Regions from separate parts of the Homo sapiens genome. Here region 1 is linked to region 2. Evidence: fine-mapped expression QTL. A gene starts in region 2. The other region holds a variant in brackets. All regions are shown on one strand. Distances are between the middles of the regions. Region 1 overlaps GRIN1 (glutamate ionotropic receptor NMDA type subunit 1). Region 2 holds the start of UAP1L1 (UDP-N-acetylglucosamine pyrophosphorylase 1 like 1).

What was found.
Region 1: its variant is fine-mapped to the expression of UAP1L1 in subcutaneous fat (FUSION, PIP 0.95).

The regions. Positions count from the first base shown.
Region 1 is chr9:137,143,536-137,148,535 of GRCh38, reverse strand. It overlaps GRIN1 (glutamate ionotropic receptor NMDA type subunit 1), which reads right to left. Exons shown (of 20, transcript NM_007327.4): 3 at 2,634-2,810. Among named protein-coding and RNA genes, the nearest start is that of GRIN1, 6.9 kb to the right of the region's middle. The variant C/T (reference allele first, on the strand shown) is at 3,117.
Region 2 is chr9:137,074,670-137,080,157 of GRCh38, reverse strand. It overlaps UAP1L1 (UDP-N-acetylglucosamine pyrophosphorylase 1 like 1), which reads right to left and starts at 2,641. Exons shown (of 9, transcript NM_207309.3): 1 at 2,337-2,641; 2 at 1,904-2,108; 3 at 1,481-1,656; 4 at 1,010-1,182; 5 at 709-902; 6 at 16-156. The coding sequence starts at 2,625. RefSeq lists enhancers at 1,039-1,917, 5,263-5,488 and silencers at 2,279-2,378, 2,389-2,448, 2,459-2,708, 2,719-2,808.

The DNA of each region.
Region 1 (5,000 bases), 69 kb before region 2:
CAGGCGGGCGGGCTCCCTCCCGGGTTCCACGAGGAAACCCTTGGGGTCTCGGAGATTCGCATGCACTTCCCGGAGAGCAGCTCCTCCTGCAGCCGCGCCTGCCTCGAGGGTGCAGGCTAGGGTCACGGCGGGTGGGCCTCAGGCACCCACGCCGCCACGCCTGCCCTCTCCTGCCTGCCCTCTCCTGCCTGCTGCCGGCTGCCTCTCCTCATTGCTTGGGCCTGCGGCTCGGCGGCTGGGCCAGACAGTGGCCCTAGTGGCCGAGGCGCCGAGGCCAGGGCTCCCTAGCCGTGGGTGGCGTGCACGTCCATGCATATATACCTTGGGTCCGCGCTTGTTGTCATAGGACAGTTGGTCGAGGTTTTCATAGTTCCTTTTTTTACTCTGATGAATAATGTGCACAGAGAAAATATGCAGACACAGAAGAAGATTATAAACGGTTGAAAATGACGGCGCTAAAGCAATCACACCACCTCCTCGGCACGTCTGCAGACGGGCTCCTACCTGGAGCTCGCAAACACCGAGGCCCGGGGCGGGGCTGGGGGCCGGGGTGGAGCTGGGGGTGAGGGTCGTAGGGGCGGGGCCGTGGAGGCTCCCTGCCACGAAGCTGTGCTCTTGGAAACGGTCGCTCTCGGGAGAAAAGGAGGCCCTGTCCGCGTCCACCGTTCGGAGGGAGCCCCACCTGCCGCCCCCACCCTGCCGTGCACCTGCTGTGTGGCCCCAGCAGTGCCCACTCCAACCTGTGTCAGTCCTGAGTGGGAGGTGAGCAGCCCCCCCGGGGCCTGTCCCCATGTCCCTCCCCCTCCCTCTCCTTGGTCTCCCTCTGCCTCTCAAGAGACCGAGGTATCCTCACTAACTGGGGTGCCCACGCCCTTCGGCTCGCATATGCGCCCAAGAGGGTGTGTGTGCGTTATGTGCGCCTGCAGGGGTGGCATGCGCCTGTGGGTGTCAGCATGGGAGGGTTAGTCCACAAAGGCCTGTGAAGGTTGGGGAAGGGCCAGATGGTCTGAGCATGCTTGTGTGTGTGCATGTGTGCATGTGCGTGTGTGCGTGCTTGTGTGTGCGTGTGTGCATGTGTGTGCGTGTGCATGTGTGCATGTGTGTGCCTGTGCACGTGTGTGCGTGTGTGCATGTGTGTCTGTGCTGGCTGGCGCAAGTAAGGGTGAGCATGCACATGAGGAGCGCACCTGAGCGTGTGTCCAGGTGTGTGTGTGAGGAGCGCACCTGTGCGTGTCCAGGTGTGTGTGTGAGGAGCGCACCTGAGTACGTGTCCAGGTGTGTGTGTGGCGCTGGAGCTGCATGGAGGCAAGCCTGAGCCTGTGGCCAGAGGTGTGGAGTGTGATGGGAATGTGTGCATGCACCTGTGAGTGAAAGCAGGCAGTTGGGTGCGCAGGGGTGAGTGTGTGATGGGAGTCCGTGGCCGTGGGTGGACATGCCAGAAGGTGAGGGGCCTGTCGAGCGCTGGGGTGAGGGGCCTGTCGGGTGCTGGGGGGGAGGGGCCTGTCGGGCGCTGGGGGGAGGGGCCTGTCGGGCACTGGGGTGAGGGGCACTGTCTTGGGTGGGGCCCTTGGTGCCCATGCCCCTCCCCCCCAAGACTCAGCAGACCCCCCACGACAGTACTCCCAGGACCCTCTGGTCTGCCCCTGGCTTTACCCCCGACCCATGCCCTCTGGTCCCTCCCGGGGCCTGGGGTGCCTTGGGGGGTGCTAGGTTGGCCCTAAGTCCGATGAAGCCAGCTCTGACACGAAACATGCTCCCAGCCACCCATAGGTCTGGCCCTCCTCAGCCTGGGCCTCCTCCCACTGCTTGATCAGGAGCTGGCCCAGGTGCTGAGCACCCAGGGCTCCGGGGGTCTGTAGCCGAGAACCAGCTCTGCCCCAGACTGCAAATGGGAGTGGTAAGGAAGGGGAAAGGGGTCGCTCGGACCCCCCCAAATCCCAGCTCTGATCTCTCTGCAGCCCCACAGAGTGGACGCCTGGCTGTGTTGGGGGTCAGTGTGTCCTAGAACCAGGTGGCTAATGGGTCTTGGTGAGGAGTGCAGAGGGAGCCCTGTGGTGGGGGCAAGGAGGGGAGTGGAGCCCACAGGGGCGGTCCAGGCTGGGGGGCAGGTGTCTGTGGACAGGGCTTTGCTGAGCCATGAGGTGCAGAGCTTCAGGGGAGGCCACGCGGGGGAGGACAGGGAATGGGCCCAGCCAGGAGGGGACAGGCCTGCAGGGGCGGTATGTGGGGGTCGTGTACAGGGGAGACCTTGCCCAGAGGGAGGCTGCTGGGGACTCAGGACAGGGTGGGCGGGAAGGGTGACGAGTCCCAAGCCCGGCTGGGGCCTCCAGGGAGCGAGGGGCATGGGCAGGAGGAGGGGACGAGGGCGCTCGGCAGCGCGGGGCAGGGGTGTTTGCGGAGCTCCAGGTGGTCTGGCCCTCGCCCCGCAGGGACTGACACGAAGGAGATTTCGACTAATGGCAAAAGCGAGTGAAATGAGCCGAGGACAGGCTGGGGCGGGCGCTCGCCAGACGTGGTGGTGCTGACCATGCACGATGGAAAGAAGAGGGTGTCACACACGGAGCCACAGACACAAGGCGGCCCGTCCTGCACCTCGGCTCCGCCAGGCGCCCACCCGCGGCGCCGACCCTCACCTTGGACTCACGCTCCTCCAGCAGCGTCTCCAGGCGTTTCTGAGCCGCCCGGCCCTCGTGGTCGTCGCTGACCAGCAGGATGATGTGGTTCCAGCTGTAGACACGCATCATCTCAAACCACACGCTGGACTGGTGGGAGTAGGGCGGCACGGTGCGCAGGAAGCTCAGGTGGATGCTCTGCGGGAGGCGGGGGCACGGCGGGCTGAGGTGGACCCGCGGGGACCCGCCCTCCCACCCGCCTCCCACTGCCGGAACACCCGCCGGAGGCTGGGAACCCCCCTCCTCCCACCCCTGTCCCCACCCCCATGGGGACACGTTCTAGACCCTGGGACCCCCTCGTGTCTCCCACCCCGTCCCTACCACCCTGGGGACACTTTCTAGACCCTGGGACCCCCTCGTGTCTCCCACCCCTGTCCCCACCCCGCTGGGGACACTTTCTAGACTCTGGGACCCCCTCGTGTCTCCCATCCCATCCCTGCCACC[C/T]TGGGGACACTTTCTAGACCCTGGGACCCCCTCGTGTCTCCCACCCCTGTCCCTACCACCCTGGGGACACTTTCTGGACCCTGGGACCCCCTTCCTCTCACTCCTGTCCCCACCCCTCTGGGGACACTTTCTGGACCCTGGGACCCCCTTCCTCTCACTCCTGTCCCCACCCCTCTGGGGACACTTTCTGGACCCTGGGACCCCCTTCCTCTCACCCCGGTCCCCACACCCCTGGGGACACTTTCTAGACCCTGGGACCCCCTTCCTCTCACCCCGGTCCCCACCCCTCTGGGGACACTTTCTAGACCCTGGGACCCCCTTCCTCTCACCCCGGTCCCCACCCCTCTGGGGACACTTTCTGGACCCTGGGACCCCCTTCCTCTCACTCCTGTCCCCACCCCTCTGGGGACACTTTCTGGACCCTGGGACCCCCTTCCTCTCACTCCTGTCCCCACCCCTCTGGGGACACTTTCTGGACCCTGGGACCCCCTTCCTCTCACCCCGGTCCCCACACCCCTGGGGACACTTTCTAGACTCTGGGACCCCCTCGTGTCTCCCATCCCATCCCTGCCACCCTGGGGACACTTTCTAGACCCTGGGACCCCCTCGTGTCTCCCACCCCTGTCCCTACCACCCTGGGGACACTTTCTGGACCCTGGGACCCCCTTCCTCTCACTCCTGTCCCCACACCCCTGGGGACACTTTCTAGACCCTGGGACCCCCTCCTGTCTCCCACCCCTGTCCCCACCACCCTGGGGACACTTTTTTTTTTTTTTAAACAGTCTCGCACTGTTACCCAGGCTGGAGTGCAATCTCGGCTCACTGCAGGCTCCGCCTCCTGGGTTCACACCATTCTCCTGCCTCAGCCTCCCAAGTAGCTGAGACTACAGGCGCCCGCCACCACGCCCGGCTAATTTTTTTGTATTTTTAGTGGAGATGGGGTTTCACCGTATTAGCCAGGATGGTCTCGATCTCCTGACCTCGTGATCCGCCCGCCTCGGCCTCCCAAAGTGCTGGGATTACAGGCGTGAGCCACCGCGCCCGGCCAACCTGGGGACACTTTCTAGACACTGGGACCCCTCCTTTTTCCCACCCCTGTCCCCACCATCCTGGGGACACTTTTTAGACCCTGGGAACCTCTCTCCCACCCCGGCCTCTCCTCCCACATATAATCTCGGAAATGGAGGAGGTTTAGTGTTGGCCCCATAGCACCCTAAGGGACGTGGGTTTCTGTGGAATTGTGCCTGGGGTGAGCTCACCTCTTCCCCTGCAGCCCACCACCTTTGGACAAGCTGAGCTCAGGAAATTCTTGATGACACATAGCGCCTCGAAGATCCCCCTGGGGCTGCCCATAGAGTCCTCCCAAATTTAAACAACTCTATGTATGAAGAAGAATTCACTCTTGGGGCTAAAGGCCTCATCTCCCCAGGCGAGAGCGTGGTGCTTGCTTGCCCTGGCTTGCTTTTCCTGGCTTCAAGCTGCCACGGAGTGCCGTGGCATGGCCGGGAGTGGAGCAGGCTCTGCCCCCCTCTGCCTCAGTTCTCTGTGTCTGTCCAGGTAAGCCCTGGTTCCTTCAGTGTCCCTGTGGACTCTTGCTGATCTTGTGGTCCTCTGAGGCTTCCAGGTTATTTTTCACCTGCTCCCTCTTTGTGGCCTGGGGCAGTGCCTTGGGGTGCAAAAATGTCCCCTGCTTCTGTCTATCCACCTGGTGACGTGGTGGCAAGGCAGGCTGTGCTTGAGGTCTTGGACTAGCTCTGACCTGGCCTTGCCGGTTCATGTTTTGGGCACAGGTTGGTTGTAGTGTAGAGACTGTGGTAAGGCCAGGGTGCAGCTGTGAGCTGTGCCCCCTCCCTTTGGCCTGCTCTGGGCCAGGGGCATCCGTTT
Region 2 (5,488 bases):
AGTTCTACTACTAACTTAGCAAACCGGAACACATCAAACACAAACTTCTCCATCTTTATCCCGTTCGGTTTTAGCGGCTTTACCAGATTCCCCTCCTCATCCACATACGGGACCTTCTTCACAGCCACGTGTGGCTTCAGCAAAGGCTCAAACTCCCTGGGGCACGGGAGAGCAGAGGGGAGGAAAGAAACAGATCAGATATGGCACCGCTGGGGGCTCTGTCCCCACTTCTGAGCACACCCAGCTGGGTGGGACAGGATGGCAGAAGGACACTACAGGGCACAGAAGCGGCAGAGTAGGGCCAGATCTCCAGGGAGAAGCAGGCACAGGCCTCCTCCCTGCATCCCTGTGCCAAGTGCCAGGCACCATCAGCCACATCCCTGCCCAGGCAAACAAACTGGCAAGCCCCAGAGCAGAGGTAGCACCCTGGGCACCAGGGCAGGTCCCCAGAAGGAGGAGATGGCAGACTTGATCACAGAGCCTTACAGCAGCTGCCTGCTGAGCACGGCTTGTGCCTGATCTCCAGCACCTCTGCCTTTGCAAGCTCAGGATCCATTCTCCACCCCGACCCATCAGCCGTGCCTGACCACAGCCACTCCTGACCACAGCCGCTGTGGCCCAGGGCACTCAGCTCACTGGGACCCCGCGGGTCCCTGGTCAACGCAGGCGGCTCTGGCCGGCAATCCGCAGCCACCTGCTGCCGCACACCTGGTGACCGCCTTAAGGAAGCCTCGGGTGAAGAAGTGGTTGCAGATGTTGCCTGCATTGTACAGCAGGCTCCCGTCGGAGGCACGTAGCTGTGCGGTCTCAGGACTGATCTCGCTGTACTCCACCACCTGGGGGACACCGTCCACCTGGCACACCACGCCCACGGGCTCCTCGGGGTATGCCTTTTCCACCACCTGCAGCCAAGACCAGGGATGGGTTCCGAGGGCTGGGCGGAGGGGCGGGGCTCCGTGAGGGGCGGGGCCAGCCTCGGGTGCGGGGCGCCGCGCAGTCGGGCGCTAACCTTGGCGCCACAGTCTGCGCCCTGCAACACACAGAAGCCGATGAAGACAGGGTCCGCCAGCCGCACCAGGATGTTGTCCACACAGTACACGTGCACAAACTCCACTCCCCGGCGCTCCATGTCCTCCAGGATCTTGTGGTCCTCCAGCGCGCAGTAGAGGCCCCCGTTGCCGTCTGCAGACGGAGAAGGGAATGGGCATCGCGAGGGCTCCCGCCAGGGATCGCTCTGGGAGTCTAGGACGTGCTGGAGGCGGGGGAAGCCCCGGCCTTGTGCCTAAGGCAGCCCTGGTCACTAACCAGACAGCCCAGTTGGTGTACCATGTGACAAATGACGATCAAGGCCCAGAAAAAGAGGCGCCTAACCCAGGACCACACAGCCTCGGGGCAGCCGCGAACCCGGGCGCGTGGACCCCCAACTACGCTCCCAGTTCTAGTCTGGGCGGTCCCTCCCCGTCTCAGGAACGGGCCACACCTGGGGCCATGGCAACTTTGTCTTTCCGCTCCAGGATAACCTTGCCATCAAAGGTCACAGCAGGCAGCAGGCGCTGCTCAAACATGACCACGTTGGCGGGGTCCAGGTGGAAGAAGTTGTGCTCCCTGAAGAACTCGGCCGTGGGCCCCAGAGTGAACTCGCTGGTCATGACGTACCTGCAAGGGAGGCGCGGTGAGCCGGCCGCGAGTACGCCTGGCCCTGCAGGCAGACGGGGCTCGGACCAGAGCCGGCATCGGGGTTCGGGGTCCAGTGTCCAGTTGGGGCTGGGGCCAGGCCCCATTTTGGGCCGGTTCTGGGCAATGTCCCGGTCTGTGCCGGGGTTGGGGCTCGCGTCTGGAGCGGGGATGTGGGGGGGCGTGGGGAAGGGTACCTCCGGGCCGAGGTAGGGCAGGCAGGACACACCAGGGGACGGTGCAGCGGGTCCCGTGGCGCTCACCGGCCAGCTGCTCCACCCGCCGAATCCGCTCCGCCTGCAGCTGGTACAGGGTCTTCCGGCTGGGCAGCCCCACACGGTACATACCCTTGGGGTAGGTCACGCCCAGGCGAGTGCCCTGCCCCCCAGCCAGCAGCAGGACGGCCACCTTGTTCAGAGAAATCTGACGGAAACCTGGGGGTACGGGCGCCGTGAAGGGACGCCCGGGACCCGCCCACCCTTCCGCTTTAGGGGAAACCAACTCTGGGGCTGGGGCGCCAGGACTCGGGGGCCGGAACGCGTGAGGCGAGACACGTCTCAAAGTAGCGAGGAGAACTACAGTTCCCCGAGCGCGGCCTCGGTTCCCACCCGCTCCGTGGGCACGACCCCCTGCCGGCCCCCAGGGCCTCCCACCCCGCTTACCTTCCTCCTCCCAGCGCCGCCGTGTCTCGGGGTCGCTGCGGCTGGCCCTGCCCACGCGCTCTGGGGGCAGGGGCCGCAGGCGCGCGGCCAAGTCGGGCGGCGGGCCGTGGGGGCGCGCGCAGGCCTCCGCCGCCCGCCGGCAGTGCTCGCGCAGCGCCTCGGGCTCCAGCAGCGCCAGCTCCGCCAGCAGCGCGGCTCGTGGCTCCGGCGCCAGCTCGGCCCAGAAGCGCAGGAGGTGCTCCTGGCCAGCGCGCTGCAGCCGGGCGCGCACGTCCTGCTCCGAAGCCATGTCGCCGCTGCCGTCTGTCAAGTCGGCACTCGTGACCCGCGCCACTGACCAGCGTCACGAGACCGGGCGGGCGGTGTAGACCCCCCAGTGGGGCGGGCCCCGGGCGCCCCGCCCCGCCCCGCCCCGCCCCGCCCCATCCCGCCCGGTCCCGCGCCCTGCCCTGGAGCCCGCCCACCCCCGCTGCGCACCCCAGACTCTGTCCGGGTTCTCTCTGACCCCGCCCTGTCTACATCCCCCCAGCCCCCCCGCGTCCGGTCCGAGACTCGAGACAGGGCCCAGCCCCATCTCTCCAGCCTGTCCCCCGTCCCTCTCCGTCCCCTGGACCCGCTCCGGTGTCTGGCCCTGGCCTGCTCCCTCGAGCTCCCGTCCCCGTTCCTGCTCTTCTCCAGGCCCCGGGCCCATGCCCGCCCTGTCCACTCCGCGCCCCGCCCCGAGAGATCCCAGGACCCTCTGGGTCGCGCCAGCTGGCGTGGGCAGAGGAATCGACCATTGAGCTAAGGGAGGAAGAGGCCCCAGGGACGCCCCGCAGGGGAAAGCTAGGTTCTGTCCCAGCACGGGCTTTGAACCTGAGAGTGGCATGGCCACCTTTGCGCTAACCAAGACTTGGACGGAGACCTCCTGGTGCAGAGACAACCGGCCAGAGTGCATTGAAGAGGCCTGGGCTACGGCTGAGCTGTTGGGAGGCTGGAACCAGACCAGGTTCCGGGATGCCATCCCGCGGCTTGGGGCTCCCTCCCGCACACCCTTCCTGCTTCCCATTGCCTGGTGACCAGAGCGCTCTGCAGCCCCTCGCCCACATTGTTATTTTACTATCAGGTTTTAAAATATCTTGCTTGTGGTCGGCGCGGTGGCTCAAGCCTGTAATCCCAGCACTTTGGGAGTCCTAAGTGGGGTCAGGAATTCGAGACCAGCCTGGCCAACATGGTGAAACCCCGTCTCTAATAAAAATAGAAAAATTAGCCGGGTGTGGTGGCAGGCGCCTGTAGTCCCAGCTACTCGGGAGGCTGAGGCAGGAGGCCTTGAACTCAGGAGGCGGAGGTTTCAGTGAGCCGAGATCCTGCTGCTGCACTCCAGCCTGGGAGACAGAGTGAGACTTCTCAATAAAAATAAAAATAAAATAGTTTGCTTGTGAAAAATATGAAAGGGTAGCTTCTGCCAGTTGGGCACAAAACTTTCTCCTAGAAACTATATAGTAAGTCTAAAAGTAATATATGTGACTGCATAAAAGAATTCAAATGGTGGCCAGGTGCAGTGGCTCATGCCTGTAATCCTAACACCTTGGGATACCGAGACAGGATGATCGCTTGAGCCCAGGAGTTCAAGACCAGCTTGGGCAACATGGTGAAACCCCGTCTCCACTAAAAATACAAAAATCAGCCAGGTGTGGTGGCGTGTACCTGTAGTCCCAGCTACTTGGGAGGATGAGGCACGAGAATCACTTGAACCCGGGAGGCGGAGGTTACAGTGAGCCAAGATCGCACCACTGCACTCCAGCCTGGGTGACAGAGCGAAACTCTGTCTCAAAAAAAAAAAAAAAAAAAAAACCGGGCGCAGTGGCTCACTTCTGTAATCCCAGCACTTTGGGAGGCCAAGGCGGGCGGATCACCTGAGGTCTGGGGTTTGAGACCAGCCTGACTAACATGGAGAAACCCTGTCTCTACTAAAAATAGATACAAATATTAAATATAAATATAAATATATAAGCATGGTGTTGCATGCTTATAATCCCAGCTACTCCAGAGGCTGAGGCAGGAGAATCGCTTGAACCTGGGAGGCGGAGGTTGCCATGAGCCAAGATCGCGCCATTGCACTCCAGCCTGGGCAACAAGGGCGAAGCTCTGTCTCAAAAAACAAACAAACAAACCGAAAAAGAAAAACAAATCATGCTGTTACAGGAAAGAGGTTCCAGACCTCAAGAGAGGGTTCTTGGATCTTGCGCAAGAAAGAATTCAGGGCAAGCCCATACAGTAAAGCAAAAGCAAGTTATCAGGAAAGTAAAGGAATAAAGAATGGTTTCTCTACAGACAGAGCAGCCCTGAGGGCTGCTGGTTGCCCATTGTTATGTTTTTTTGGATGACATGCTAAACAAGGAGTGGATAATTCATCCCTCCCCTTTGTAGACCATATAGGGGAACTTCCTGACGTTGCAGTGGCATCTGTAAACCGTCATGGTGCTGGTGGGAGTGTAGCGGCAAGGACAACCAGAGGTCACTGTCGTTGCCATCTTGGTTTTGGTGGGTTTTGGCCGGCTTCTTTATCGGAACCTCTTTTATCAGCAAGGTCTTTGTGACCTGTATCTTGTGCCGACCTCCTGTGTCATCCTGACTTGGAATCCTTTAACCATCCAGAAATGCAGCTCAGTAGGCCCCAGCCTTATTTTACCCAGCTCCCATTCAAGATGGAGTTGCTCTGGTTCACACACCTCTGACAGTGATCTAGGACCCAAAATGAAAACTAACATCTCCCTCATGCTGCCCCGTGGACCCCTCAGGCAGTTGTGTTTCCTTGCAGTTGGGTTCTGCCCCCACCTCCACACACATGCCCTCACTGAGTTTGGGAGGGGGCTTCACCCCTGGGGCAAGGCCCACATGCACTCTTCTGGACCTGCATGGAGTTGCTTTTCGGGCCTGCCTCAGGGTCTCTGCACTTCCTGTTCCTCCCTCCTGGACCGCTTGTCCCCAGAGAAACGTGTGGCTGGGGACGCATTTGGTCAGGCCTCAGCTCCCCAGGCCACGCCCACTCGGTGAGCACCTTCCCATCCTCCGTGCCAGGCTGCCTTTCTGCATTCTTGGCTACCTGACTCCCCTGTGAGAAGCGAACCCCACAAAGGCGGGGAGTTGCTGTTTTTGTTTTGTTTTGTTTT